Homo sapiens: one gene and its partners. The protein of the gene in region 7 purifies or fractionates together with the protein of the main gene of each other region. This does not show direct contact. Each region holds a gene or a part of one and is shown on either strand. Other genes may lie near its edges.

Region 1 (3,500 bases), on a different chromosome or scaffold from region 7:
ACATCATGGTCACCATCCGCCCCCATGTCTTGACTCCTTTTGTAGAAGAATGTCTAGTAGCTGTAAGTTGTAACTTGCCCTAATGAAGTGGTTTAACTCAGTAAATAAGGAATTATAAAAACAATTCTTATAAGTTATGTAGTGTTTTTTTTCTGTTGCAAACACTAACATTTTAATGTGATCACATACATTACTAAACTCAAACAAAGAGTGTGTTTTGGCTAGTTTTAGTGGGTAGGTTAATTTGTTGTCTGGGTAATACGGAATATCTTCGAGAAATACATTAGCTTTTTAAAGATAAAAGGAAAAACAGATTTGTGATCTCATGTTAATTTTGTTTTAGATTTTGAAGTATATCAAGGGCTGATTTTTGCTAATCTTCTTAGATGCTCTAAGGCAAAAAAAAAAAAAAAATAGTGCACATGTATATCATTTGTTAGAGTAGTTAGCACAACAGAAACTCCAAACCTTAGATTCCCTTTCACCGTGTATGTGTCGAGGCCACAGAGTTACATGTGACAGCAGAGCCCTGCAGTTGTGTTTCATGGAGCCTCCCTCCTCCAGGTGTCAGCTGCTGTCCTTCCCTCATGGGCCCTGGGGATGTCCTGCAACATTCTGTGGTGGTGGTTCTTAAGACCTGCTCGTGGAGCACCAGAATCACCACTAAAAACTATTAAAACTACAGATTCTGAGATCTCTTCTAGGCCTATCATACACCATCTATAGGCGATGAGGTCTTAGAATCTAATTTTGTAAAGCTTCTGGGTGATTTTGGTAATAACTCAGTTTTAGGACCAATAGCCCGTGGTAACTCTCCTTTTGTTAATCCCAGGGAGAATACTGTTTTCACCATCATCTGGGTTTCCCACAGTGCTTACCATAGGCAGGAACTCAGAGTAGCCTTTCAGTTTCCTTTCTTCCCCCAAGTCCTTAGTTCTAGAGACATGGTATTCCAACGAGGCCTCTTCCATTCTGGCACTGTGTTAATCTAACTCCTTTTCTTGGGCGCCCCCTTCTCTACTCCATACTAAACTTTCATGTCAGCTATTTTAAATGATTACTAAGTGAAGATTTATGTGGTTGTTACCTTGTAAAGAAGTGCTTTCCTAATAAAAATATTTTGCCTTGCTAGGGAAGGATAGAATTTGAAACTCCAAACTGAAGTCTCATTCATAATGGACATTCTGTCTGTTTCCCTTGTCCCCTGTGAAGAAATATGGTTTCTTAAAAATTCTGATTATCAGAATTTTTACTAGTCTTAACCCCCCATGAAAGTATATGGCATCTCATAATTTTACCATAATATGCTTGTTTGCTAGAAATCCCACCAATGTAAAGTCTGTACCTAAATGATTATTTATTACTGGTTATAAGTAACTTGACAAGTCTTGATATTAATGTTACATTGACTACTTTTCATAGTATGTTTGCATTGATACAATACAGTTTTTCATGCATAAGCACACACATGTGTGCATATGTACTTATAGTTTTTGCATGTTTAAGCCTTTAAGATTTGCTCATTAGATGAAATAAACCAACTTATAAAACATTTCCAATTGAAATTTGAACTCTAAATTACTACTAGTCCTGTTATAATCCTACACATGTATTTATTTAGTTTTCTAGGAGTTGTGTATGGAGAGTACAAGTTCTGGTCATGATTAGTTGCAGTTGCTTCTAAAAATCATTTATAGCTTTTTTTTAATGCAAAAGAAAAATACTTATAGTCATTTCTTCTTGTACATGCATTTTTGATTACTTTCAAACTAGTTTTAGATGTATGTACTTCTGAATCATCTATAAATCTTTTGTATATTTTTCTTCTCTCTTGTTTTCAATTTATTTGAGGCTGCTGGAGGTACCACATCCCATCAAGTTAGTTTCTCCTATTTTAATGGATTTAATTCGCTCCTTAACAACATGGAACTCATTAGAAAGATCTATAGCACTCTGGCTGGCACCAGGAAAGATGTTGAAGTGACTAAGGGTGAGTGAGAATATATCTGAATTCTAGCCTGCAAGTATTGTGGTGTATTATTATTAGGGTGAAGAAGGCAACTAGTACTTTATTATTTTTCTATCCCATTGACACATATTAACTATATGATAACGTGTGTTTTTCATCCTTTGATCAGACAAACAAAAGCAAACAAAACAATCTTCACCAAGTTTTAAACAAACTGGGCCCAGCTTGGTGACTCACACCTGAAATCCCAGCAGTTTGGGAGGCCGAGGTGGGTGGATCACCTGAGATCAGGAGTTCGAGACCAGCCTGGCCAAGAGGGTGAAACCCTGTCTCTACTAAAAATACAAACATTAGTCGGGTGTGGTGGTGGGCACCTGTAATCCCAGCTACTTGGGAGGCTGAGGCAGAAGAATCGCTTGAACCTGGGAGGCGAAGGTTGCAGTGAGCCGAGATCACGCCACTGCACTCCAGCCTGGGCAACAAGAGCAAAATGCCATCTCAAAAATAAATAAATAAATAAATAAATAAACTGAAGACACCCTTTGAATAAGGAAAACATGTAAAGTTTCTTAAATATTTTCAAATCTTGCTACAGCTTGAGCTAAATTGGCAACCTCTAAGGAAGCCTTCAGGTGTATATGAGGAATTCCATAAAGTTGCATTGGTGACAGTGTAAGTTGGTCTGTAGGCTTGGGACAGGATATTATCAGCATTGTAATGGGATTAAGAAAAAAAATCAGAGCCGGTGCGGTGGCTCATGCCTGTAATCCCAGCACTTTGGGAGGCCGAGGCGGGCAGATCATGAGGTCAGGAGATTGAGACGATCCTGGCTAACACGGTGAAACCCCGTCTCTACTAAAAATGTATATATAAAAAAATTAGCAGGGCATGGTGGCACACACCTGTAGTTCCAGCTCCTTGGGAGGCTGAGGCAGGGGAATCGCTTGAACCCAAGAGTCGGAGGTTGTAGTGAACCGAGATTGCACCACTGCACTCCAGCCTGGGCAACAGAGCAAGACTCTGTCTCAAAAAAAAAAAAAAAAAAAATCAGAATTCCCTTAGGAATTCCACACCTTCATTAATATAACCACCTAAATTAATATAATTAATAATCCTAATTTAACCAGTTAATTAGATTAATATAACTTCCCCTCCTGGGACCTATGCATATGAAGTTTCATATATGATTCCTTATTTTCTCTGATTGGCAATTTGAATAACATCAGATGACCCCAAGCTTTTAAACTGTATATTCAAGAACATATTCTGCACACGCTTTCCAAATGGATGCAAGAACTGCAAAAATTCTTACCTTATTTGGATTGACTTGAATTCTACAACTGATGATAATAATAAAGTTTTGTGATGTTCACTCATTCCAGTGCCTTGAGTTAATGCTGAATTTAGTGGCTATTTCTTCTTGAATCTTTCCCTTTTAACTTTTCTTCCATACAGAGGAGTTTGTTCTGGCAGCTCAGAAATTTGGTCAGGTTACACCCATGGAAGTTGACATCTTGTTTCAGTTAGCAGA
Region 2 (2,488 bases), on a different chromosome or scaffold from region 7:
GTCCTTAAAGGAAAGGGATATATCTGTCCCCATTGTTTGTTTTATGCAGTCATAATACTACATACAAATCTATTCAGTGGTAATACTACATACAAAGGATGAAGGGCCTAGAACAGTATTGGATCACTTCAGTTAGCTGAGTTACAGCCTGGGTCTAGAAGACCTTTGGAGAAGCATACTGCTTCTGCTAATGCTAGTTTTTGGATTGCCAGGTCAACTTAAAATGTTAACTGTTTATGTTAAAGAATCTATTATCCTAGCCTTCTCTAATTTGCAGGTCTGATTTAGGTAACTCCCCCAATTGAGAGATGCCAGTACTATCTCCAAGAGCACTTTCCAGGTAACCTTTGTTTACCATGAGCCAAAGTGTGAAGTGGCTATTGCAAGAATGGCCAACTCACCAAGGATAAAAGCTAGAATTCAGTAGGCACTGATAAATGGTCACAGAAAATCTTTACCAAAATTTAAATTACAAAGAACAGAACTGACAGTTTTATAACTGATGTTTTAAATTTAAGTCATTTATTTTACAAACAGAGACTACCTATTATACTTAAGACATTGTGTTAGATCTTTGCCAAAGACATGGTTTAGTCATACTAATGTAATCCATTTTTTAACTTTCCATATTAATTTAATTTTTAATTCATTTTTCTTTATGCTTGCTTCAGGGGCTACATCTGGGACTGAATAGCAGCATATGGCCCAAGGGCTGTGGTTTTGCCACTCATGCTCTATACTCTAGTCTCTTCCAGAGTTGAGTATAGCAGTCACTATCTTAATACAGTGTGTCACTATTTTATTACCTGCAGAGAAACAGATTAACTTCCTTTATTTAATACTGATAAATAGAAAGGCTTTTTCAAGAAAAAAAAAGAAAGCTTACATTTACAAAAGTGATTTATGCTAATATGTGCCATTAACAAAGACAAATACTGAAATCCACACAAAATCAGAATTAACTTCTACAACTAAAAAAAAATTACAGGGTAATAAAACTGTAGGAAAAGCTGTATGTAAAAAGAAAAAAAGACAAGTCCCTATGTAGCTAATTACAAGAGAATATTGTAAATACATTCAAAAAGTTTTCCAAAAATCCTGCAGCCTCATCTAGAAACTGATACATGTTAAGATTCTTGATCTATACCAAATTATAATGTTAAAGGAAATCATGAAAACTGAGGTATATATTTGATGCATTAGAAACTATCATTTGAACACTATTTAAATAGTTTAATTATAAGGTCTAATTTCAAGTTAAAGTCTGTAAACGGAGATTAGTTTGGATTATATGACACAGGAGACAATAAAACATGTTCTCAAAGACATGCCAATACATTTTCTTGAAACAAAACCTCAGCAAATGAGAATTTTCATACTGTGCATGGGAATAACTAAAACCTTTATTAGATATGATTTTCCATTAACAATAATGTGAAAATTAGAATTATGAATTCAAAAAGCAGTGAAGTCTGAAAATTTAAAAAGTAGACTAGGTATTAGGGGATTAAAGGTAAAGGAAGACGAGAATGTTTCTTTAATACTATTCATTATTTCCCCTCTGTACACAATGTTGCATATATACAACTACTTCATTTTTATTGACTTTATATAATAGTGAAATCCCTTTAAGCAACCTAGGGTATACAGTTGGTGTCCAACTTTCAGGGGATTTTCGGGGGGGAGTAGAAACACTTGATTAACAGTTTTCACCCACACACGTTAGACAATTTTTTTCTTTTTTTGCCAAGATTTTAGTAGTAAATTCATAAATATAGGAAATACTTTCACTCCTTCAGTGTTAAAATAGAAAACCAAACAGTGCCAACAGTAGTGGCTTAATTATTGGTATACAAGAAAAACACAACAACAATGGGTTTTCTTAATTACGCATTTTAAATATCAATATGTGCATTTGTTTTTACAGTTATAAATTTTTTTCTCACCTGTTTTAGACAACAGCTTGTAATAGTTTTGAATCCATTAAGATGTTGCTTTCAATTTGAAATATTTTGTGTATACATGTATATAAAAAATAACCCAATGTATGACTCATCTGACCGATGTTTAAGATCAATAACGGCTTATTTTTCAACATGCAGTTAGGAAGAGAGGGAAGCAAGCCAACCTCTCTACAGTATCTTTTTGCTGGCTTGTTTTTGTAGTGGTATCAATAGTGGTTTTTGGAGGGAACCATGTGCCTTCAGCCTATCTAGTCAAGATCAGATACCACGATCAACAAGAGCGGTAGAAGAGATGGGGAAAGGGGAGTGGGTAAGTGTTAAATATCAATTTTGTAAAGTGTGCATTTTGTACTCCTTCTAGGCACAGGATTAAAAACAGGCCAATGAGGAAAAATTTGTTATAATTAGGAAAAAACTGCAATCAAATCAAGACATAATAGCCGAATTAAGTTCTTTTAATAGATTGCATATATAGATGTTTAGCCATACTCTTAGATCAACTCTTTAAGAGCAGAACTTTATAT
Region 3 (3,500 bases), on a different chromosome or scaffold from region 7:
TGGCAGCCTCTCCCTCTCAAACTTTGGGGTGGCCCAGTGGCCTCACCTTCTGGACCTCCTCAGGGCTCAGCTTGGACACGTTGAGAATCTGCTGTGCCTCCTGGAGGCTGAGGCCGGAGAGGTTGGAAGCGGCTGCAGACCGGTGTCCAGCGCGTCCTCGGGCATCAGCTGCGGCCCGGCTGGCTGTGTGGACATGTGGGTGATCGCTCAGTCCTCAGCAGCCCACACTTCACCCTGGGCCTTCCGAGTTGGTGGCTCACCCCTGCCACCAGCACAGGATGAGAGACACAGGGACAGGTGGCTAGGAGCTGCCTCTTCTCCAGGAGTGGTTTCCTTTTTAGGGGGTAGAGGCTGGGAAAGTGAGGACAGACGTGCCTCACTGGAGGGTAAGGGCAGGATCTGACCGCTAATCCTGGCTCCTGGTCCCCAACCTAGACCATGAGATGACCCTGTCCCCCAACCCCCATATCCCAGGGGAACAGCAAATTGGGGAGCTTTAGGCTACGATGGAGACTGTATAGTGGGGCTGCGGGCATGAGAGGGCTCTGCAGGGGCCCAGCTGCCCACCTGTCACCTAGACCACCAAAGCCACTGCCTTGGGTGACCTCTCCCCTTTCAGTGACCCCAGAACCTAGAATCAGGAGCTGCTAAACTTTTCCTAAAGGCTCAGAGAGTAGCTATTTTAGGCTTTGCGGGCTAATGAGCCTACACTGGAACCATTCAACTCTGCCTTGAAAGCAGCCTGTCGGCCGGGCACAGTGGCTCACGCCTGTAATCCCAGCACTTTGGGAGGCCAAGGAGGGCAGATCACGAGGTCAAGAGATCGAGACCATCCTGGCCAAAATGATGAAAACCTGTAAAATACAAAATTACTAAAAATACAAAAATCAGCTGGGTGTGGTGGCACATGCCTGTAGTCCCAGCTACTGGAGAGGCTGAGGCAGGAGCATTGCTTGAACCCGGGAGGCAGAGGTTGCAGTGAGCCAAGATCGCACCATTGCACTCCAGCCTGGGCAACACAGTGAGACTCCGTCTCAAAAGAAAACAAAAGGGCTGGGTGCGGTGGCTCACGCCTGTAATCCCAGTACTTCAGGAGGCCGAGGTGGGCATATCACGTGAGGTTGGGAGTTCAAGACCAGCCTGACCAACACGGAGAAACCCCGTCTCTACTAAAAATACAAAATTAGCCGGGCATGGTGGCGCATGCCTGTAGTCCCAGCTACTCAGGAGGCTGAGGCAGAAGAATTGCTTGAACCCGGGAGGCAGAGGTTGCAGTGAGCCAAGATCGCACTATTGCACTCCAGCCTGGGCAACAAGAGCGAAAACTCCGTCTCAAAAAAAAAAGATTTATTTACAAAACCAGGGCCGGGCGCTGTGGCTCACACCTGTAATCCCAGCACTTTGAGGCAGGCGGATCACCTGAAGTCAGGCGTTCCAGACCAGCATGGCCAACATAGTGAAACCCCGTCTCTACTAAAAATACAAAAATTAGCCTGGTATGGTGTCGGGTGCTTGTATTCCCAGCTACTCAGGAGGCTGAGGGAGGAGAATCACTTGAACCAGGAGGCAGAGGTTGCAGTGAGCCAAGATTGCCCCACTGCATTCCAGCCTGGGCGACAGAGTGAGACTCCATCTCCAAAAAAAGAAAAAACAAGTTTACAAAATCAGGTATCCAGATGGGCCAGTGTGCCAGCTCCTGCCCTGGATGCTCTTGCTAACCAGGTACCACTGAAGAATGCCCCGGTCTGGCATCACCCCCCACCATGGGAAGTGCCTCAGGCCACGCACACTTCAGAACCGCCAGGCCTGAGGTGCCCATGGCTACGGGGAAAATCTGACCTGGAGAGGAACTCCCAGCCCACAGGGGAGACGGACCCATGCTTACCTGCAAACTCCTGCCGCAAGGCCCGTGCAAAGGCCCTGCCCACCACCTGCACGCCCATCACAATGATCTGGGCCAGGTACTTGGCCTGTGGGCAAAGCAGGCACCCGGTTAGCAGGCCACTCCCTGTGGGCCCACAGAGATGGGCCCTGGAAACGGCTGCCGAGGGGCAAGGCTCCCGGAGACCCGAGGTCATGAAGCACAGAGCTGCAGCCCCAGGCCAACCCCTCCAAAGCACCCTGAATGAAAGCTTCCATGGTGGGTGGCTTAGTTACTCACTGGACAGGCAGGCAGGCGGGTGAACTTGACCGAGCTCCCAGAGGCAGACTGGCCCCACCTCATCCTTCAGGAAAGGCGTAGAGGAGCAAGGCAAAGTGGCTGCAACCACCGGCTTCAGGAAGAAACACTGTGGTCTGGGAGCCAGAACACAGGGACAGCCCTGGACCTGGCAGTAACTCACTCTCGACCCTGGGGCCGACCATCACTCTTCCTGAGTTTCTGAGATCATCAGGCCCAACCTTTACTTTACCAACGGGGAAACAGATCTGTCCTAATTCTCCCAAGTCCGAAGACTTTAAGTCCATTCCATTCAATAAAACAAACTTACTATGCAAACCTGTTTCCATCTTCAAGGAGCTAAAAGCCCACTAGGAGGGTATTTAAACACACTATGGACCAAATCATGAGGGAGAGTCAGGCTCGTTCATTTGTGCAGCCATTGGTTCACCCATTCATTCAAACATCTGCTGAGAGTCTACTCTGCTCAGCACTTGAGCACAAAGCTACACAGAACCTGGTCCCTGCCCCGAGTCAGAGCACACTGCTGGCCTGGCAGGGAACCCCACTGTCACACACCAGGCTGAACATGCCGGAACACTGCACGTGTGATTCCATGCCCCGCAGAGGCCCTGGGGACTCACTAAGATGTGAGCGGAAGCAACAGAGTCGAGGGAAAACTCAAGACTGAGATGGGATTCGGTGAGAGGAGGGGGTTCTGTGTGAGAGGAGGGCGTTCCGTGAGAGGAGGGGGTTCCGTGAGAGGAGGGGGTTCCGTGAGAGGAGGGGGTTCTGTGAGAGGAGGGGGTTCTGTGTGAGAGGAGGGGGTTCTGTGAGAGGAGGGGGTTCCGTGAGAGGAGGGGGTTCTGTGTGAGAAGAGGGGGTTCTGTGTGAGAGGAGGGGGTTCTGTGTGAGAGGAGGGGGTTCTGTGAGAGGAGGGGACTGTGTGACAGGAGGGGGTTCTCTGAGAGGAGGGGACTGTGTGAGAGGAGGGGGTTCTGTGAGAGGAGGGGGTTCTGTGAGAGGAGGGGGTTCTGTGAGAGAAGGGGACTGTGTGAGAGGAGGGGGTTCCGTGAGAGGAGGGGGTTCTGTGAGAGGAGGGGGTTCCGTGAGAGGAGGGGATTGTGTGAGGGGGGGTTCTGTGAGAGGAGGGGGTTCCGTGAGAGGAGGGGGTTCCGTGAGAGGAGGGGGTTCTGTGAGAGGAGGGGGTTCCGTGAGAGAAGGGGGTTCCGTGAGAGGAGGGGGTTCCGTGAGAGGAGGGGGTTCTGTGAGAGGAGGGGGTTCCGTGAGAGGAGGGGGTTCTGTGAGAGGAGGGGATTGTGTGAGAGGAGGGGATTGTGTG
Region 4 (3,500 bases), about 98 Mb from region 7:
CTGTTGTGCTCCTCACACTCTGAAAAAAGACAAAGATGTCTTCCTAAATAAAAGTTGGATGTGCTGTTGTGGCCACTGCCTTTGAGAGGAGGCAGGTTTGGTCATGAGGACAATAATTACTAGGGAAAAAGTTGAAGTAGTACTTTATTCAACCCTGACACTGTACTAGGCATTCAAATACAATATTTCTTATCTTCCTTATACCTACAAGTTAGGTTTCATCACTTTCTATTTTACTGACTGGGAAACCAAAACTTAAAGAGAGGTGGTAAACTAGCTTGTTCTAGATCACTCAAACTAGCACATGGCAGAGCCAGAATTCAAATCCTCCAATGTCCTGTGTTCATTCCACACACACTGGTGTTTCTTAAGACATTAACATGGCCTTATCTATTTAGGATGGCCACAAGAATGTAGGACAAGCTATTACTGCATGCTGAAAGTTTAATGCTCTTTAAATTTTACTATAATTTAAAAGTTTATTGGGTTACAACTGTATGAAAAATAGGCATAGGAAAATAAGGCTTCAAATAAATATATCAGCATGTTAACATCAGTGTATTAGGGCAGTGGTAGTCAGAATGAGAACTAATCCATGGCATTTTACCAGATGCCAGGCACTGTTCTAAAGCATTTTATAAGAATTTACTCATTTAATTGACCTTAGTACCTGATGGGGTAGGTAGTTCCTTTATTACTATTTTAACACATGAAGAAACTGGGACATAGGAAAGTTTTCAAACTGGGATTTGAACCAACCAGTCTGGCCCCAGGATCTTGTCTCTTAACTGCCACACTACACTGCCTCAAGAATGAGAGAGATTGTGTTTTTCTTCTCTTCTGGTTTTCAATGTGGTGGGTGGCCCTATAGTTGTAGTCTTTTTATAATGCAAAACAAAATTATTTTTAATTTATGGCTTGCATGTTTCTAAAACCTTATCTGGTCTCTAAGTAGGCCTTAGTATTTCTATAATAATCAGTTGGATAGAATTTTATATTATTATTGTTATTAGCAGTATGCCAAAAACTAATTGTAGAAATTCAAACTTATACTCAGCCTCATTTTGGGTAAGATTTCTCCTATTAACCTCCTGTCCTCCTCTTCCCCAATACTTGTCAGGTGTGGAATTGGCCAACAGCATCCAAATGTGACAGCTGACTCCAGGGAGGGGTGAGCCCCACACCCTGTGCTCTTACCAGGACTGGTGGTTTCCTCCCGTTCAGCCTCATTCTCGCTTCGGCCACAAGTCTCATAGCCCAGGTCCTGGAGGTCCACCTGGATCTGCTTGCTGTCCTGCTTCACCAAGGATTCACCTGCTTGGGAAGAGAAGCAGGTGTTACAGAATGTCTGAATTTCCCACATATGCCCTCAGCCTCAATGGCACATACCCTAACCTTTTGAGGCACGGAAGGCAGATCCACAGTGGGAGAGAAGCTTCTCTGAACTGGTGGGAGAAGAGATCACCAGCTCCAGGAAGCAGAATTTCTTTCCAAAGGAGGAGCCTGCATTTGCCATTATCTCCCCTTCAGATAACCCAGGCTTTAGTTGGGACCAGATATCTGTAAGTCAGGGATTGTACACTATCATCTCTAGCAGCCCCATTGAAGCTGGCAAGTGCTTTATCCGCAGGGGTTCAATAAATGTTGAATGGAGCTGAACTAATTTAGAGTCCCAAGACCCTAGACCTGTACTGTCCAATAAGGTAGTTAGCAGCCACATATGGCCACTTTATACTACATCAACTAAAATTAAATAAAACCAAATGTCCAAGTTGCACTAGCCACACTTCGTGTGCTCAATAACCACGTTATGTCGGTATAGAACATACAGAACTTATAAGACATATAGGCTAGTTTTCTTTACTAGTAAGTCATAGTTACTTACTAAGCATAACTCTGTATTTCTCCAGCTCGTTAGCCTGAGCAAAGACAGTGGCTTCTGATAGCAGCAGCTTCTCCTGGAGATCTTGATAGCGTTGTTTGCATTGTGACAGCTGGGAGCGCAGGTGCTGGGTGGACCCTGGTAGGCTAAACGCTGACTGAGGCCCAGGGTCACGAGGCTGGGACTGGTTATCCAACTGTGAAAGGGGCCAATACAGGGATCAGGACAGTCTGAGGTCACCCCCATGCAGTGACGACCACCGCCCCTTCTGAACCCTGTGGACTTTACTCAAGTCTGTCACAGCACTTCTCATGCCATTTGGCAGTGACTTGCTTTCCAGATGGAGCTCCTGGAGCGCTGGGATAATGTTTTCTTCATATCTGTATCCACAGCACACAGCACAGCACCAATCAAGTCTACAGAGGAGCTCTCAGGAAATGTTTTCTCAGTGGTCAAAAAGAGACCACTCATCTCCCCTCACATTCTGTCCCATTGATTCTCTCAGAATCCCTGTATTCTCCATTTCACTGAATCTTCAGCATGGCTCCTTCCCTAAAGAGGATCCCAGTAACCCATCTGAAGCCCAGGAACAGACACCTGTGATGAGCTGTGACAAAAAAATGGCAGTGATAAGGGATGTCATTACATACCACTTGTCTGGGCTGCCTCATAACCTGATGCATCCCTATGTTACAGCAGTTACCACATCCTGTTAAAATTACCTGTTTGTGTGCCATCTTTCCCGACAATATTAAGTATCTCAGGGGCAGCCATTGGTTTTATTGCCCCATGCCAATGCCTAGTGTGTTATCTGAAAAATTAAGTACTCAAGAAATATTTATGTTATAAAAGCCTTTCTAAAGGCTGAATGTAGGCAGAATATTACTATTATTGTTTGTGGTACAAAGAGACCCTTCTCTTGGTACCTCCTGATTCATATGGGAGAATGTTTTAAGGTAAACACTGTCATCTCAAGCCCTTCTCCAATTGTTTTTCACTCAATCTAAGCCCACACTTACTTGGTGGGCATCCACTGTGAAGGTAGCCCCAAGGTCAAGGCTCTGGGGTCTGGGGAAAGGCCTCACAGTCACATTCCCCTCCTCTTGGTGTTGGTGCTTCCCAGGGGAACCAACCAGTTCTGTGTTTATTCTTTCAATGGTGCTGGTCAGATGCACAAGGAGCTCTGGAGTAAGTTTACTATTCCCTTCCTTGCTACTCAGCACAAGTTGTTCTTTGAGGAGGTTGATGATATTGTGGGCATTCTTCAGTTTTCCCTGGAGCTTTCTGAACTCAGCCTGAAGGCTACTCTCACTCAGACCCTCTTTGGTTACCACAGTCTCAACCATCACCTCGCCCTTCTCCTTGTCTTCCTCGATCTCCCATCCATCAGACATTGCTTCTCCCATCTGCTCTTTCAGCTCCGCATTCTCAAGGCAAAGGCTCAGCATGGTGTTCCTGCAGGAAACACACTTAATTGAGGGCTAGGTCTGGTCCTCACAACAGTTCCTAATACTACCTCTTACCAACATCTCAGCCCGCAATTAACTCAGACTTACCCCAGAGCATGAAGCAACCTGAGACCTACCACAGCCCCCTAATTTTATATACAAGAAAGCCA
Region 5 (3,500 bases), on a different chromosome or scaffold from region 7:
TGACACCTCACCTTTAAATATTTTCACATGCATCACCTAACAATAAAGACATTCTCCTAAATAACCAAAATAACATTCTATCACATCTGAGAAAATAACCAATTCCCTAATACAATCTAATACCTGGTACATTCCCTTAATTTATACCCCAATATCCTTTATAGCTGTTTTCTAACCAGAATTCAATTATACCTTGGCCTTTTTTTTGATGTGCTTTAGCAAAGGTTGGACTGAGTGGGGACCTGGCTGAGAAAGTGCACCAAATGAGTACTTTTTCAGAGGTGGGCGATGGAACTGCCGGAGTTTGATGGGCCCCATGTGGGTGGGAAAGAAGGGCTGCCGTAATTCCACAGCAGGAATTGAATGCTAAAACAGGAAATAGAAGGGTTAAAATTAGCTAATTCCATCCTAAGCAAGATTTTCCCATATCCTCCGTCAGAACAAAGCCATGGGGTTCTCCTCTATCACAGAAAAGACACTATTTGTACCTGGATAATATTCCCTCCAAAGGTGCCTCGAAGACCCTGTTGCTTGGGATAATAATACTCATCATTGGAGAGATTCCATGGATCTTTCACTTCTGGCTGAGACATGTTCTAATGATAGATAATCAAACAAATCTCGGTCAGACTATCCTTCTCTATTACCTTTCTTTGTTCTTCTAAACACCAAGCCCCTTTTTTCTTCACACACCTGCTGTGGTTCCTCCTTGATGACTCCTGTTTTCCCTAAGAGAATTCGACTCTTCTTCAGAGATGATTCCTTCTTACTCTCCTTGGAGGGGGAGTTAGAGGTGGCCTCTTCCTTCTCATCAGGAATTTCTGAGAATAAAACAAAAATCACTTGAGTTGCTCTCCCTGAAGATTCACCTTTCCTACAGACAAGTATCCAGTTTTCTTCTTTAAGGTGACGGATGTTCCAGTGAAGGTCTTAACTAGACCTTTCATCCCACCCCCCCCCAGGTAACTTCTAGTCCACGATTTACTAACTGAACTACACCTGTATCTTTTCATCCCATCCCAAATCACTTCTAGTACATGATTCACTAAGTGAACTACACGCTTGACATCTCAAAGGTACTACTTTCCGACAGTCCTACATGAGTTTTCCCTAGGGAATACACAAATAATAAAAACTAACTGCCACAATTTTGCTCTCTCAAACTGCTACCTAGAAGTTTCGAGTCCATGATTCACTAACGGAACAAACTATGCTCTTGACATCTCAAAGTTGCAACTTTCCAACATTCCTACGTGAGTGTTCCCTAAGCATATACACAAATAATATAAACTAACAGCCAAAACTTCGCTCTCTCAAGCCGCTACCTACAGGTTTCTAGTCCTAATCATCTCCAACCCTTCTGATTTCCTCCTGCCCGTTGACATTAACAGCAAGTTTTCAAAGGAGAAGAAACACTGGCCTCTGCCAGTAATATACCCAAAATGAGGTTCTCATCATTGGGATCAAGTGTCAAAACAGGAGGTTCCAACAGCCGGGGCATGGCCTGAGCATCCCAAATGATATTGTCCTCCCAGCGTCCATATACCAGATCCTCATTGTCAATGGGAAAAATGGAGTACCAAGGTTTGTCATCATCAAGAGTGGCTGCAAAACCTAGTCAAAGTGCAAGGAGGAAATAGTAACAGAGAAAACATTTATGCCCCTTTCAATCAAGATTCTGGCAAAGATAAAAAGAGTTACTCATGTTAGTAGAGCGAGTTAGTGGAGTTATTCATGTGTCCACTGAAAAGGAACCTACACAGTGTATTTCTCACTTTAAAATAATGTTGCAGGCTCAGCACGGTGGCTCACACCTGTAATCACAGCATTTTGGGAGGCCGAGGCAGGTGGATCACTTCAGGTCAGGAGTTCAAGACCAACCTGACCAACATTGAGAAGCCCCATCTTTACAAAAAATACAAAAATTAGCTGGGTGTGGTGGCACATGCCTGTAATCCCAGCTACTCAGGAGGCTGAGGCAGGAGAATCACCTGAGCCCAGGAGGCAGAGATTGCAGTGAGCTGAGATCGTGCCATTGCACTCCAACCTGGGCAACAAGAGTGAAATTCTGTCTCAAAAAATAAATAAATAAAAATAATGTTGCAGTCAAAAATGTCCACTGCAATACTGTTTATAATAGTTGAAATTTAAATAGCCTAAATGTTTAAGAAGGAATTGGTTAAATTATGACAATAAATGATATGGTAAAGTATGCTAACAATAAATGGTAATAAATTGTATTAACAAATGCAACATGTTATCGGTAAATTATGAAACATTCGTAATAGTAATATATAACCCATAAAGTGGGCAGAATGGAAGGGAAAAAACCTATTTCTTAGGTTTTAAAAATCAGACATTTTTGTATCCGGGTGTGGTGGCTCACGCCTGTAATCCCAGCATTTTGGGAGACCAAGGCAGGCAGATCACTTGAGGTCAGGAGTTCAAGACCAGCCTGGCCAACCTGGTGAAACCCCGTCTCTACTAAAAATACAAAAATTAGCTGGGCACAGCGGTGCACGCCTATAATCCCAGCTACTCGGGAGGCTGAAGCACAAGAATCACTTCAACCTGGGAGGCAGATGTTGCAGTGAGCCAAGATCGCGCCAACACATTCCACCCTGGGCGACAGAGACTCTTGTCTCAAAAAAGAAAAAATTTTGTTTTTCCTCCAAAATATAAAAGTAATCCAGCTTTCTATGTTTATATAGTCTGCTTTTTTTCATTTACACTAATAGGATATCATATATGTTGTTTCATATCTTCTTTATTTCCATTTAAAATGAGTTTCTCAAGCCAGACGTGGTGGCATGCCCCTGAAGTCTTGGCTACTCGGGAGGCTGAGGCAGGAGGATCACCTGAGCCCAGGAGTCCAGCCTGACCAACAATAGCAAGACTCTACCTCTACAAAAAATAATAATTTAATTAAAATAAAATGAACGAGTTTCCCATGTCATTAAACATTTTTATAAAGAACTCTAAATGACACAAAAATATTTATGTGGCTGGGTGGGGTGGCTCTTGCTTGTAATCTCAGCACTTTGGGAGACCGAGGCAGGAAGATCACTTGAGTCTAGGAGTTTGAAACCAGTCTGGGCAACAAAGTGAGGCCCTGTCTCAACAATGAAAAATAAAAAATGAAAGAGAGAAAAATATTTAGTAAGTGAAAAGCACAGTATGCAAAACTGTACATACGGAAATGAGCTCAACTACATACACACACAGAACACTGAAAATACACCAAAACTTAACAGTTGATAATCTCCAGATAGATTACCAGTGACTTTAACACTATACTGTATTTTCAAAGTTTTTTACATTAATCATGGCATACCTTAAAAAAAAAAACCTATTTAAGGAGAAAAATAGGAAACTAGAATTCTAAATACAAAGGGACTTGGGAACAAAAATATACTATAAAGTACTGTTATAGTTCAGAAAGATCTTTAACTTCAGGCCAGGCGTGGTGGCTCATGCCTGTAATCCCAGCACTTTGGGAG
Region 6 (3,500 bases), on a different chromosome or scaffold from region 7:
GTGACATTATGCTTTGATGAGAAGGAATTTAAATCCATCAGAGGACACATGTAACAGAGTGAAGCAATTCTGTGGGAACACCAAAACAAGACAGGTTAATTCTGACTGGAGTGTCTGGGGTGGCATCACAGAGGAGGTGACATTGAAGCCGGGCCATAAACAATGAGAAGGATTTTGCCAGCTGGAAGCCATTCTAAGCAGAGCGGCATGAATAGTGCCCATGGACACGTGAAAGTGCAGGAAGTATCTGGAGGTCTCTGGTCCTCGCACACTGAATTCATGGTTACAGAACGATAGGCGACAAGACTGAGATATAAACTCACCAGACTTTGCGCCAGGGACCTCAATTGTCAGTGGAGAGCTCAGTTCTGAGTGGTGCCTCAAGGGCACCTCTTGTAAGGGAGCAAAAGGAGGCCAAAGAACATGACTTTGCCCTGCACCAATAACCTCCTTCAAACAGTAGCGCTGTTTTCTCAATTTTAAAACTGAGACTTTCACCCTAAGAGTTCATTTAAAACACAGGTTTTATTTCTTTTTAAAAAAATTTGTTTAACCATAATTTATCAATAATTGTAGAATAGAAAGTAGATCTGAACAATACTCTCAACCAACCTGATCTGACATTGAGAATAAGATATTCCACCCAGCAACAGCAGAACACACATGCTTTTTAAGTCAACATGGTAAATATTTCAGGTTTACTTAAAACCATATTCTGGGCTATAAAACAAATCTCAACACATTTAAAAGGATTCAGTGTTCACCAACCACAGCAAGAGAAAGATAACTGAAACATTCCCAAATATTTGAAACTTACCTATAAACCAAAGAAAAAGTAAAGAATATTAGAAAGTATTCTGAACTTCTGCGGGCATGGTGGCTCACGCCTGTAATCCCAGCACTTTGGGAGGCCGGGGCAGGGGGATCACTTGAGGCCAGGAGTTCAAGACCAGCCTGGCCAACATGGCAAAACCCCATCTCTACAAAAAATACAGAGCGAGACTCTGTCTCAAAAAAAATTGTAAACACAGCATATCAGAAATTGTGGAATACTGGTAAAGCATAAATATTTAGGGAAAATTCTATAGTGCTTGATGTCTATCTTTAAAAAGAAAAGATTTCAAACTATAAAGTATGTGGACAACTGATTTTTGACAAAGACACAAAAGCAATTAGTGGAGAAAGGATCGTCTTTTCAACAAATGAACTTGAACAATTAAATATCCATAAGCAAAAAAATAAACTTCATCCATCCTTGCACCATATACTATACAAAAATCAACTCAAAATGGATCACAGACTTATATGTAAAACCTAAAATTATAAAACTTTTAGAAGAAAATGTAAGAAAACAACACAATTAAAAAGCAGGCAGAAGATTCAAACAGGTACTTCACCAAAAAAGATACACAGAGTACAAATAAACACATGAAAAGATGCTCATCATTAGGAATTAAGGAAGTCCAAATTATAATCACAATGAGCTATCATTACATACTTATTAGCATGGCTAAAATTAAGAAGACTGACCATACTAAGTGTTGGTGAGGTTGAGGAGAAATTGGACCTGGAATTATGTCTCATACACTGCTTGTGGTTATGTAAAATGGTAAAAAACTGCTTAGGAAAACAAATTGAAAGTTTCTTAAAAAGTTAAGCATACACCTACCGTATGATCCAGCCATGCCACTTGATATATGGTCTGGCTCTGTGTCCCCTCCTAAATCTGACCTTGAATTGCAATCCCCATAATCCCCACGTATCAAGGGCAAGACTAGGTGGAGGTAAGTGAATCACGGGGGTGGTTTCCCCCATGCTGTTCTCATGATAATGAGTGAGTCTCATGAGATCTGATAGTTTTATAAGCGTCTGGCATTTCCCCTGCTCGCACTTCTCCTTCCTGCCACCGTGTGAATAAGGTGCCTGCTTCCCCTTCCCCTTCTGCCATGATTGTAAGTCTCCTGAGGCCTCCCCAGCCATACTGAACTGAGAGTCAATTAAACCTCTTTCCTTCATAAATTACCCAGTCTCAGGTATTTCCTTATAGCAGTATGAGAATGGACTAACACACCACTCTAGGTATTCACCCAAGGAAAAACAAAGTATATGTCCATACACACTTGTATACAAAAGTTCACAACAGCTTTATCTGTAATAAGCCTTAAACAACTCCAACATTCATCAACAGGTAAAAAATAAATTGTGGTATATACATATAATGGAATACCATTCAGCAATAAAAAAAAAAAAAAAAGCCACTGATATACACAACATGGATGAATCTCAAAATAATTATGCTGTATAAAAGAGCCAGACCAAAAAAAGCATATGAGCACATTCATATAAAACTCTAGAATACATACTAATCTGTAGTGACAGAAAGCAGATCAGTGGTTGCCTGGAGGGGATGGAGGAATGGAGAGGCAAGAGGAAGAGACTACCAAGGACCATAAAGAAACTTTCAGGGGTGATGGGTATGCGCTGTATCCTGATTACAGTGACAGCTTAATCTGCGTACACATCCGTCAAAGTTTATTGGCTGGGTGCGGTGACTCACTCCTATAATCCCAGCACTTTGGGAGGCCGAGGAGGATGGATCATTTGAGGTCAGCAGTTCAAGACCAGCCTCGCCAACAGGGTAAAACCCTGTCTCCACTAAAAATATAAAAATTCGCAGGGATTGGTGGCTCACACCTGTACTCCCAGCTACTCTGGACGCTATGGCAGGAGAATCACTTGAGCCCTCGAGGCGGAGATTGCAGTGAGCTGAGATCGCACCACTGTACTCCAGCCTAGGTGATAGAGACTCCATCTCAAAAAAAAAAAAAAAATCAATGTCAATGATACTTCAAAACAATATGCAGTTTTTTGGTGTTAATTATACCTCAATAAAGTTTTAAATAAAATGACTGAAACAATGAATAGCCATTGACAATTTTTAAGAAAATGAGTACAATTAAGTCTGTATTTCCGGAAAAAAAGGTAACACGGGTGGCAATGTAGAGGACAGAAGGGAGGTGAAAGAGACTAAAACAAGGATTTTAATCAGGAAGCTATTGCTAAAGTCCAGGTAATAAAACAAGAAAGATTACATAGGTCATTTAATGTCTTTTGGCCTCTATTTTCTTAACTGTAAAATAAGGGTACTACCTACATCACAGGGTTATTGTGAAGATCAAATAGAATACTATATATGAAAATGCTTTTGAGCTATAGAATAAAATACAGATATTAAAACACTATGATTAATACTGCAATTACAGACATATAATTATTTATTGTCCTTTCCTTCTAATATTATCATGGTATATCAGTGGTCTTCTAACTCCTAACCTGCTGTCAAATATATGGCCAGAGCTCTCTTTAGGTAGGTAAGTATCAGAACTTTCCCGGCCTACATGTGTATAGGAATACATTCATAAGAGCTACGTATTTAGTCCGAATCTGTTGAGAGCTCAAATCCTCCAGCCTCAAAGACAGAAGTTTAGCATTTATAGCCC
Region 7 (3,500 bases):
AATTAGCTGGGCATGGTGGTACACACTTGTAATTGCAGCTACTCGGGAGGCTGACGCAAGAGAATCACTTGAATCCGGGAGGCGGAGGTTACAGTGAGCTGAGATTGCGCCATTGTATTCAAGCCTGGGCAGCAAGAATGAAACTCCAGCTCAAAAAGAAAAAAGAAGAAGATGAGACATGGAGAGCAGGATTGCGGTTCTGACCTTTGAGCCAATTGGCCTCACAGGGGAGAAGTGTCTCCCCGAGATGAAGGATTGCTACTCTGACTGTTCACCTGTCTCAGACAAGCACAGGGTACTAAGTGGAGAAAAATCTAGCAAGTTCATAAAATAGGAATAAGTTAGTGAGAAGTCTCAACTCCAGATTACTCAAAGAAGTGGGCCAGATGTGACAAAATGCAGTAAAAGTAAGGAATGGGCAGACTGGCAAATAGGAAAATGCGTTTTCTTTCCAGAAGGAGCTACGATTATTTTAATAAGCTCATTAATACTTCACTGCAGCCTGCCAGTACTCATAGATACACTGCCTAGCTGATGGGCTCACTAGCCAGACATGAGAAGTGAGCCTGTGGCTGTAAGGCAGAGCCTGGAGGAGCTGGGAGTTGGCCCAGCAGAATGAAGGGAGGGTGCTCCAGGTAGTGGAAGCAAGCACACTGGGTGTGAAGAAGCAGCATGCTTGGGGAATTACATGGAATTTAGAACTGCTGGAACATGAGAATTAAGGGGCTGTGGTATGATATGATACTAAGGACTTTCTGTGACATGCTAAGAAATTTGGACTTTGTACTATATACTGTAGGGATTTTTTTGTTTTTGTTATTTTTATTTAAGTTCTAGGGTACATGTGCACAACATGCAGGCTCGTTACATAGGTATACATGTGCCATGCTGGCCTGCTGCACCCATCAACCCGTCATTTACATTAGGTATTTCTCTCAATGCTATCCCTACCCCTGCCCCCCACCCCACGACAGGCCCCAGTGTATGATGTTCCCCACCCTGTGTCCAAGTGTTCTCATTGTTCAGTTCCCACCTGTGAGTGAGATCATGCGGTATTTGGTTTTCTGTCCTTGTGATAGTTTGCTCAGAATGATGGTTTCCAGCTTCATCCATGTCCCTGCAAAGGACATGAACTCATCCTTTTTTATGCCTGTATAGTATTCCATGGTGTATATGTGCCACGTTTTCTTAATCCAGTCTATCAGATTTGAAGAGTGGATATGTTATAGGAGTGAGGCAGGAGGAAAGGTGACATCACATTTTTATTTTAGAATAACAATTTGTTATGTATTTGGAGATGGGGCTAGCTGGCTGCAGTATAACCAGTTAGGGCCTATTTATAGTAAATTAGATGAGTGTTGACAGGGTCTGAACTAAGATATAATTGTGCAGGGGAGAGGAGACTGATTTGAGATAATTTTAGGAAACTGAATTGATAAAACTTGGTGACTTCCAGGATAGGTAGCATGAAAGACTGCTTCCAGATTTTTTTTTTTTTGAGGCGGTTCTTGCTCTGTCACCCAGGCGGAAATGCAGTGGTGCGATCTAGGCTCACTGCAACCTCCACCTCCCGGGTTCAAGCAATTCTCCTGTCTCAGCCTCCTGAGTAGCTGGAACTACAGGCTCATGCCGCCACACCTAGCTAATTTTTATATTTTTAGTCGAGACAGGGTTTTACCAAATTGGTCAGGCTAGTCTTGAACTCCTGACCTCAGGTGATCCACCTGCCTCGGCCTCCCAAAGTGCTGGGATTACAGGCATGAGCCACCACACCCAGCCTGCTTCCAGGTTTTAACCTGAGAATTATGTGGGGAGTAATGCCATTAAATAAAAAAAAGAAGCCATCTGAGTACCATGTGCCTGGCCCCACACTAAGCTCTTTGTATTCTCTTATTTCATCCTCACAACTACCCAGGGAAGTGAGTGTTGTTATTCATCACCATTCTTTGATTGAAGAGGTTGATGCTTAGAGAGGTAAAGTGACTTGCCCAGGGTCACACAGCTAGTGGCTGCAGAGCCTGGATGTAAGTGTGGCCTGACTTAAAGCCCACACTCTAGACCACTCTGCTGTTCAGCCATTTGCTCAGTTTTGTCTCAGAGTCTTCCCTCTTTTGAGCACAACAGAAAGATGTTAGAAGTGGGACCCAGGCAGGCTGAACTAGAGGCTATACTTTGTTTTTTATTTTTATTTTTTTGAGATGGGGGTCTCACTTTGTTGCCCAGGCTGGAGTAGAGTGGCACGAACACAGCTCACTGCTGCCTCAACCTCCTGGGCTCAAGGGATCTTCCAGCCTCAGCCCTGAAAGTAGCTGGGACTATAGACTGGTGCTATCACATCTGGCTAATTTTTGTATTTTTTGTAGAGACAGGGTTTTGCCCTGTTGCCCAGGCTGGTCTCTAGCTCTTGAGCTCAAGTGATTCACTCACCTTGGCCTCCCAAAGTGTTGGGATTACAGACGTGAGCCACTGTGCCTGGCCATGTGTTTATATATATATGCCATATATATATAGTCCTTATATGTATAATATATATATATAATAAGTATATGGCCTCTATATATAGTCCGTAGCATCATATTTTATACACACACACACACACACACACTTTTTTTCTTAGAGAAATGGGGTCTCAAAGCGATCCTTCTGCCTCAGCCTCCCAAAGTGCTGAGATTACAGGTTTGAGCCACCACACCTGGCCTAGAGGCTACACATTGAAGCACGTGCTAGGAAGTGGAGGAGGAGAAATAGGTTTAGAGAGAGAGATGATGAATTCGGTTTTAGACTTGTTGAAATTGAGGTGTCTGCTAGATACCTTGCATCAAGACAGAAAATACAAATAATATACTGTTTGTATATGATGTTTTATAAGTAAGTGAGAAAATCAGGGGGAAGAGAAAATAAAAGGAAAATGTAGGCAAAGTGAAATTAGTTTTATGTGTGACTCATGCTACATGTCCTGTGCTCTCACTGGTCCTGACCTTTCTAACAAAAAACAGAGGGAAATCCTATCAGTGAGCAACTCTAGACATAGAGGTTGGAGGTCACAGCACAGATTTTATTGAAGTTGGGAGAGTAGGTGAGATTTCCTGGGAGAATGTCTGGGGCAGTGATTCTCCATCTTTGAAGTACACAAGAATCACCTGTGAGGCTTATTTACAATGCAAGTTACTGGAGTCTACCTCAGAAAGCCTGATTCTGGGGGTCTGGAGTGGGAGTGAGTGACCAGCATGCAACCCAGGTGATTCTAAAGCAGGTGGACTCATGGCCAACTTGAGAAATTTGGGGGTGAAATAACTTAAGAACAAGGCCGAGAAAGCTCCAAATGAGTTTTAAAATGGATGTGTGCAAACCCTAAGGATCAACCAGGATAATCCACTGGGTGCAGAAAGCATATGGAGCTTCAACTTCTGTTTTAATCTCAACTTTAGTTCTATTTAAATATGTTTAAAATGTGTGTTTTATTCATTTGGTAGGCAATTTAAGTGATTTATAAGTAAATT

What was found.
Region 1: the proteins of SCCPDH (region 7) and SLC25A13 fractionate together in Homo sapiens (co-fractionation; one large-scale study listed by BioGRID). This does not show direct contact.
Region 2: the proteins of SCCPDH (region 7) and IPO7 purify together in Homo sapiens (co-immunoprecipitation; one large-scale study listed by IntAct). This does not show direct contact.
Region 3: the proteins of SCCPDH (region 7) and PAM16 fractionate together in Homo sapiens (co-fractionation; one large-scale study listed by BioGRID). This does not show direct contact.
Region 4: the proteins of SCCPDH (region 7) and PDE4DIP purify together in Homo sapiens (affinity purification with mass spectrometry; 3 studies listed by BioGRID and IntAct, with this or other methods). This does not show direct contact.
Region 5: the proteins of SCCPDH (region 7) and TAF1 purify together in Homo sapiens (affinity purification with mass spectrometry; 2 studies listed by BioGRID and IntAct, with this or other methods). This does not show direct contact.
Region 6: the proteins of SCCPDH (region 7) and SAAL1 purify together in Homo sapiens (affinity purification with mass spectrometry; 4 studies listed by BioGRID and IntAct, with this or other methods). This does not show direct contact.

Annotation. Positions count from the first base shown.
Region 1 is NC_000007.14:96,189,599-96,193,098, reverse strand, and holds part of SLC25A13 (electrogenic aspartate/glutamate antiporter SLC25A13, mitochondrial), read left to right. Parts: coding exon 1-62; intron 63-1,851; coding exon 1,852-1,990; intron 1,991-3,424; coding exon 3,425-3,500. UniProt on the Homo sapiens protein: Mitochondrial electrogenic aspartate/glutamate antiporter that favors efflux of aspartate and entry of glutamate and proton within the mitochondria as part of the malate-aspartate shuttle.
Region 2 is NC_000011.10:9,446,140-9,448,627, reverse strand, and holds the end of IPO7 (importin-7), read right to left. Parts: 3' UTR 501-2,488; downstream 1-500. UniProt on the Homo sapiens protein: Functions in nuclear protein import, either by acting as autonomous nuclear transport receptor or as an adapter-like protein in association with the importin-beta subunit KPNB1.
Region 3 is NC_000016.10:4,341,322-4,344,821, forward strand, and holds part of PAM16 (mitochondrial import inner membrane translocase subunit TIM16), read right to left. Parts: intron 1,971-3,500; coding exon 1,886-1,970; intron 184-1,885; coding exon 47-183; intron 1-46. Other genes in the region: CORO7-PAM16 protein, read right to left, coding at 47-183, 1,886-1,970. UniProt on the Homo sapiens protein: Regulates ATP-dependent protein translocation into the mitochondrial matrix. Inhibits DNAJC19 stimulation of HSPA9/Mortalin ATPase activity.
Region 4 is NC_000001.11:149,001,428-149,004,927, reverse strand, and holds part of PDE4DIP (myomegalin), read right to left. Parts: intron 3,338-3,500; coding exon 2,902-3,337; intron 2,079-2,901; coding exon 1,886-2,078; intron 1,318-1,885; coding exon 1,198-1,317; intron 20-1,197; coding exon 1-19. UniProt on the Homo sapiens protein: Functions as an anchor sequestering components of the cAMP-dependent pathway to Golgi and/or centrosomes.
Region 5 is NC_000023.11:71,379,857-71,383,356, reverse strand, and holds part of TAF1 (transcription initiation factor TFIID subunit 1), read right to left. Parts: intron 1,615-3,500; coding exon 1,438-1,614; intron 822-1,437; coding exon 694-821; intron 597-693; coding exon 489-596; intron 367-488; coding exon 193-366; intron 1-192. UniProt on the Homo sapiens protein: The TFIID basal transcription factor complex plays a major role in the initiation of RNA polymerase II (Pol II)-dependent transcription.
Region 6 is NC_000011.10:18,099,583-18,103,082, forward strand, and holds part of SAAL1 (protein SAAL1), read right to left. Parts: intron 1-3,500. UniProt on the Homo sapiens protein: Plays a role in promoting the proliferation of synovial fibroblasts in response to pro-inflammatory stimuli.
Region 7 is NC_000001.11:246,730,909-246,734,408, forward strand, and holds part of SCCPDH (saccharopine dehydrogenase-like oxidoreductase), read left to right. Parts: intron 1-3,500.